2 linked regions of the Homo sapiens genome follow. The protein of the gene in region 1 purifies or fractionates together with the protein of each later gene. This does not show direct contact. Each region holds a gene or a part of one and is shown on either strand. Other genes may lie near its edges. The genes, in order: PPIP5K1 and BUD23.

Region 1 (3,817 bases):
CCATCCCCCAACCATTTTTTTCTGGTTTATGCAGTCATAAGACATAGACAGCTGCGTGTGGTGGATCACACCTGTAATCCCAACACTTTGGGAAGCCTAAGTGGGAGAATCATTTGAGGCCAGGAGTTCAAAACCAGCCTGGGCAACATGGCAAGATCCTGTCTCTACAAAAAATTTTAAAACATTATAAGATGGAAAAAAAAAAAAGGCACAGGTAAAGGAAAGCTCTGTGTATCATCTCTCAGACTTGATAAGATTGACTTCTTTCAGGCCTATGGGAAGCTTCCTATTGTAATCACAGGCTTTCTTTTCAATTACTAGTGCTGCTTAGACCCTGGCTTATCCAGGGTGATGGTTGTCCAGGATATTTTCCTCAGCTTTGCAAGAAAATCATCTCTCTGCTCCTTGGTCACAAAGCCTTATGATACTAATGTTAATGTTTATCTTCCTTGCTCTATAAATATAGGCATACAACTTATCCTTCCCTCCATCCCTTCTTCTCCTCTTGTCATCTCATACTTTTTAACTATTTTAGATTATAAAACTTACGACCTTTATAGCAGCTATGCCCTAGCTGGTCATCCTCTCTAGCCCTGTAACTAGCTCTGCCCTGTGGGCCCTGGGGCTTTTGGGAGCCTGGGGTTTAAAGGAGCCGTGACCGGCTTTCCACCCGGTCTGATTGCAGGTCATGAACATGCAGTGCACGGGGAACCTGGACCTCATCCCCTTGCGGGGACGGCGCTGCAGGAGGTCGGGAGACCTCCCCCAGCCTTCCCTAGCCATTGGCCTACAGCCCCGGGCTGTGTCCACCACTCACCTGGCATCCTGCACACAGGTGTCCCTCCCTACCTCACCTTCCTGTCTTGCCTTCTGTCTTTGCCTTTTGGGATCTAGGGGCTCAGACACTATCTGGGTGGGATGTGTGTGTTTTGGGGGTTGTGTGATTGGGCCCTTGTGGGCATTGTAAAAATTCTGTTTCATGTTTCTAGGGGTGAGACAGTGGAGGGGTGGGCTTCTTGGTTCTAACAAGGAATGTAGTATGGTTGCAGTAGCCACAGCTCTCCCATGCAAAGAAGAGAGGGTGGCCAGACTCTTATCTGTGGCTGAGCCATTGTGATTGGCTTTCTGAGTCTGTGGGGGGATAGATACAATTAGGAAACTCTGCTCTGCTGAGAACTAGGAATGGGTTGAATAATGATTTCTCAAACTCAGATTGGGAATGGGAGGGCTGTGGGGAAAGGCATCTTGAAAATAGAAGTGCCTTCTAGTATAGAAAGATGCCCCGGACAGTTCCCTCCATAAAGTACATTCTCTGTTCCCTTTTCATCCCTCTTCCCCTATAAATCCTTTGGTACTTCCAAACTTTCTAACATTGCTTGGCTTTGTAGGGACAGGAATCCAGGACCTGAGTTTTATACTTTGGGGTTGAGGTGGCAAAATGATTAATATAGAGTCCTTTTTCTGCAGGTACTTTCTGAGACTTCATCCTCGAGGCCTGGTGGCTACCGGCTCTTTTCATCTTCACGGCCACCCACAGAAATGAAGCAGAGTGGCCTAGGTATGGTTTTGCCAGCATTTCTCACCTATTGTTGGAAAAGTTGTCTGTCTGTTCTTCAGAGTTTTATTGTGGGAAACCTTTGTCATGGGATTTGGGACCGTCCAATCAGTGGAATATCATCAGGTGGAGGTAGGGAGGATGAAGTGGGAGAAGCCATAGTTAGATGTGAACTTGGATCTCAGATGATTATTCCATCCCAGGAAGGTGTTTATCTCTTGGTTTTCTATACCAACCACATTTCCCTGGCCAAAGGGCGTTTTTCTGGCTTTCCCTCTCATTCCTTATCTGTCCCTCCAGTCTAGCCCAGACCTTAAGGGGCCATGGAGACTCTGAACCTTCAGAGTTATCAAAGACAGAGCTATAAATAGAGGTACTTGCAACCCTCATAAATGTCGTATTCCTCATTTGAAGAAATGTGCCACGTCTTCCCCTGAAACCTGTGTTTTTCACATCCCCGCTCTTGCCCTTCTTACCACCTTGCCCTTTCCTCCATCATCTCCTAATCCTGTAACTTTTTCCCCTTCCTTCTGGAAAATTGACCAGTCTGAGACTGGTGTAGTGGCAGAGGCATCTCTCAGGACTTTGAGGAAATGTCTCTTGATTTTTGGATCCCTGGAAAGGGGTAGAGAACATCACTCAGCTTTTTCTAAGAGCACAGACGGCAGGAAGGACCAAGCCTCAGAGGGTATTGTATTCTTTGGGTGGGGGGCAGTCCTTGGGAGGAACTATCTCTGAGCACAGTGCCTTGTGAGCCAGTAATTAGAACTGGAGGTCAGACATGGTTGTGTGGGGTCTGGTCTTGGTCCTCTGGCTGTTTCTGTCTTGTCCTATTATTCTCTCTATTTAGCGCCTCTAATTGTTCTGTTGCCTTTGTCCTTGGCAGCCATTTTCTTGGCCCCAAAATGGTCAGCTTTTGGACTAGCAAGGGGGAGAAAGGTTTTGGTAACTTTCCAGGCTAATTTTATGAGAATAAGTTGCCTTCTAGATTCCTGAAATGAGGAAGATGGTATGGGGCATGAGAAATAAATGACAAGTGTGTAGATCTGGCCAGGCGCAGTGGCTCATGCCTATAATCCCAGCATTTTGGGAGGCCAAAGAAGGCAGATCACTTGAGGTCAGGAGTTCTGAGACTAGCCTGGCCAACATAGTGAAACCCCATCTCTACTAAAAATACAAAAATTAGCTGAGCATGGTGACGCATGCCTGTAATCCCAGCTACTTGGGAGGTTGAGACACGAGAATTGCTTGAACCCAGAAGATGGAGGTTGCAGTGAGCTGAGACTGTGCCACTGTACTCCAACCTGGGTGACAGAGTGACACTCTGTCTCAAAAAAAAAAAAAAAACCCGAAACAACAATAGTGTAGATCTAAGAAATGAACCTCTCTTCCCAGAAGTCCCAGTAAAGAATAGGTTTCAGACAGACTAGAAAAGAGGATAGGTGTGTCTGTCCCAGTTAAGTGGGCCGTGGGAATGCTTTCAAGAGCAAGGCAGAGGTATGGACATGGAACTGGTTGGCAGATGGTGGTGGTAAGGTAGAGACCACCCTCTGAGATGATCTGAGGACTGGGCAGAACAGAGTTGGCATGACTGCACCAGAAAAGTATTCAGTGGAGGAAGTGTATGTAGGACAAAGCTTGGGGTGGTCTGGGATAGAGCCAGCTAGTTTTAGCTTCTCTGAAGAAAAGCAGTCATATTTAGCAACTGTTATTACTCTCTGGAATCTCATTCCAGAGCCTGTTTGAACATGAAAGGTGGAGGAAGTTGCTGTATAGGGGAGAGGTCCTGAATTCCAGGGTGGGAATCATCAGGCATCTGAACTTCCTGATTGCTCTGGTGACCCCGAAATCCTGGGACCCCTGAAACCATGGTCCCTTCTTGGTGGCCTCAAGGGAATTGAACTCCTTTCCACTCCATCCATTTCCCCTATGAATGTTAAGTCCCAAGCCAAACCCAGGGTCTTGGCTAAGATGGATTTGGAAGTAGAGAGGCAAATCCTGAGAACTTGGGTATCAGTCTTGTTTCTTCTTGACCACTCTGTCCTTATAGGCTATAGTAGGAGAAGGGACCGTGGAGTCCTAACCCTCCTCTAGATCAGCTGTTGGGGACAGTGACTGGTCTGATTTATTTCATACTTCAGAGATTATTCAGATTTTATTTAATCCTCTCATTGGCAATGGAATTCTCTTTGTTTTCTTAGAATTTATATGTGTGGGCAACTGGCTTTGAGCATAGGCTTACATGATAATACACTTTTGCAA
Region 2 (2,875 bases), on another chromosome or scaffold:
GTGTACTTCCCCTGGGAGGGAGGAGATGGGAGTGCTCCCTGGGAGCACGAGATGGGCGCCTCAGAGAAGAGGTCATCCAGAAGGGTCCCAGCTCCCCATGGGGAATGGACTAGGGAAACTAAGGGAAATGAGCAAAGACCCAAGGGGTCAGGCAGCATAAACCTATGGTGGACGTGAGGAACATGCATGGCTGTGCCCAGCTGTGGGCCTTCCAAACACATGCATTTTGGGCTCATTTTTCCTCTTAAATGTCTTAAAGGTCTTAAGACCTTTCCCTCATGTCAACTGGACCTCAGATATAACCTCCCTCTTCACTACCTTATAATCAATTATTCATTCAGAAAAATACTGAGCACTTTTTACTAACAAGACACTATTTTTAATGTCAGGGATATAATACCAGTCCTCACCAAGTTTTCACTCTAGCTGGAGATACAAATAATAACCAAGTCAACTGGTATGTGTATGACTTAGAGCAGTGAAGGGTGTTAAGGAAAATCAACATGAGCGGGGAGCACAACTGCAATGAAGGCACTAAAAGAGCAATGACAAGATACAACTTACATTTTAGAAAAAAAGAAAAAGACCAGTCTTGCTGCTATGCAGAAAATAATCTGAAAGAGGCAAAGACTGCAAAGGCAAGGAGACAACACAGGCAGCTGTTCAGCAATCCAGGCTAGGGGCAGTGCTGGATTAGGCTCGTTGGAAGCAGGGAGGGTCAGCACGGGGATACACACTGAGGGACGGACAGCAGGGCTCAATGACAGGCTGACAAGATGTGAAATGTAGGGAAAGACAGGAATGATCAAGAATGGTAAAGAATGGAGGATGAGGCCAGGCGCAGTGGCTCACACCTGTAATCCCAGCACTTTGGGAGGCCGAGGCGGGCGAATCACGAGGTCAGGAGTTTGAGAACAGCCTGGCCAACATGGTGAAACCCTGTCTCTACTAAAAACACAAAAAATTAGTTGGGCGGGCGCCTGCAATCCCAGCTACTCGGGAGGCTGACGCAAGAGAATCGCTGGAACCTGGGAGGCAGAGGTTGCAGTGAGCCGAGATCAAGCCACCGCACTCCAGCCTGGGGGGAAAGAGTGAGACTCCATCTCAAAAAAAAAAAAGAATGGAGGATGGCCAGGCATGGTGGCTCACATCAGTCATCCCAGAACTTTGGGAGGCCGAGACAGGGGGATTGCTTGAGGCCAGGAGTTCAAGATCAGCCTGAACAACATGGCAAGACCTCATCTCTACCAAAAACTTTAAAAATTAACCAGGCATGGTGGCATGCACCTGTAGTCTCAGCTACTTGGGAGGCTGAGGCAGGAGGATCATTTGAGCCCAGGAGTTCGAGGCTGCAGTGAGCTAAGATTCCACCACTGCACTCTAGCCTGGGTAACAGAGAGAGACTACCCATGGAAACTCCAGGTATAGACACTGAGGGGGCATTGGGAAACCCCAGGTGGCAAGAGACTGAAGATACACATTTGGGAATTAGGACCTTCCGGCTGGCATTTACAGCACCACAGGTAGAGAAGGGATCCAATCCAGGCTGGGCCCAGCACTCGAAGAGGAAGCAGCAGTGGAGTGAGGAGCAGCCAGGAAGGCTGAGGAAACCACGATGGTGGGTGGAAGGCCAAGTGAAGGAAGCGTCAAGGAGGGAGCGCACTGCTGTCTTTGACCCTACCGAGCAGGCACATTAAGGACATGAAAAAAAGTCACAAGTGACCAGATGTGGCTTGATGGAAATTGGTGGTGGAGTTGACAAGAACAATTTGTGATGAGACAGAATTGTCAGCCTGAGAAGTGGATTGAGAGAATGGTGGGAGGGGAAGAAGAGGCAGGTCTGAGTTCTGCTATGAAGGGAAGCAACAACGGGGTGGTTAGTTGTTGTTATGGGGTTAAGGAAGGAACTTTTCTAGAAAAGGAGAAATTGTGCAGCATGTCTGTGTGCCGACAGCAGTGACCCAGGAGAGTCAAGATGAGGATGCAGGAAGGAAGGGAGAGCCACAGCACCCAAGGGAGAGGGTCCCAGATGCAGGTGGAGGGCAGCATCAGAAAAGAAGGAGACAGCCTGCCAGGCGTGGCAAGGGGAAGGGGCATGTGTGGGCTCACAAAGGGAGTCCAGGCTGCATGGCTGCACCCAGACATCCAGGACCCCAAACCCCTAGCCCCAAACAGGCACAGTCCAAATGGGACCTGATGTTTCTACCGTCACCTTGGTGTCCCTGCTGCATGTGACCTGAGAGGCTTGGGTGAGGGCAGAGAGAAAGTCCATGTCTAACAAATGTGGCAGCCCCCGCTGCAGCCGGGGCAGGCTTCAGCAGTTGCTTTACCTCTCATTGGTGAACACAGACTCCCTGGGTTCAACTTCATCCTGATTTTCACTCAGCCCCTGCAGGAACCAAAGTGCACTCAGGTCACCCTGGAGAGTTCTCAAACCATCTGCCCCACTCCAGAAGCCCAGGCACCCAGGCCTGACCCTTCCGACAGGGACGAGGTCCAGTCCCACGAGAAGGAACTGACACGCCTTTCTGGGACCTGCAGAGCAGAGGTCTCTGCCTCCAGATTCCAGAGGATGTGAGCACTCCAGGGTCTGCACTCTGGGGCTGGGCCCTGCTTCCCCACCAGTGTTCTCCCAGCAGGCTCTGCAGGCTGAGCCCCACTGCCTGGAAGTCAAAAGACACAGGCCTGCCTGCAAACCCAGTGTCCCTCACCTCTGGTATAAAGGTCGAAGGCCCAGAAAACAAGCAGAGGTAGAATCTGAAAGGAGAAAGTGCAAAGTGAGGGTTGGGTGGAGAAAGCCCCACAGGGAGACAAGCCCTCAGCTCCCCCACCCGCACCCCCTCCGCCTGCCTGGACCCTGGTGACCCACACCCCA

What was found.
Region 2: the proteins of PPIP5K1 (region 1) and BUD23 fractionate together in Homo sapiens (co-fractionation; one large-scale study listed by BioGRID). This does not show direct contact.

Annotation. Positions count from the first base shown.
Region 1 is NC_000015.10:43,566,204-43,570,020, reverse strand, and holds part of PPIP5K1 (inositol hexakisphosphate and diphosphoinositol-pentakisphosphate kinase 1), read left to right. Parts: intron 1-685; coding exon of another isoform or gene 686-835; intron 836-1,467; coding exon 1,468-1,558; intron 1,559-3,817. UniProt on the Homo sapiens protein: Bifunctional inositol kinase that acts in concert with the IP6K kinases IP6K1, IP6K2 and IP6K3 to synthesize the diphosphate group-containing inositol pyrophosphates diphosphoinositol pentakisphosphate, PP-InsP5, and bis-diphosphoinositol tetrakisphosphate, (PP)2-InsP4.
Region 2 is NC_000007.14:73,693,506-73,696,380, reverse strand, and holds part of BUD23 (18S rRNA (guanine-N(7))-methyltransferase), read right to left. Parts: intron 2,758-2,875; coding exon 2,712-2,757; intron 2,390-2,711; coding exon 2,331-2,389; intron 1-2,330.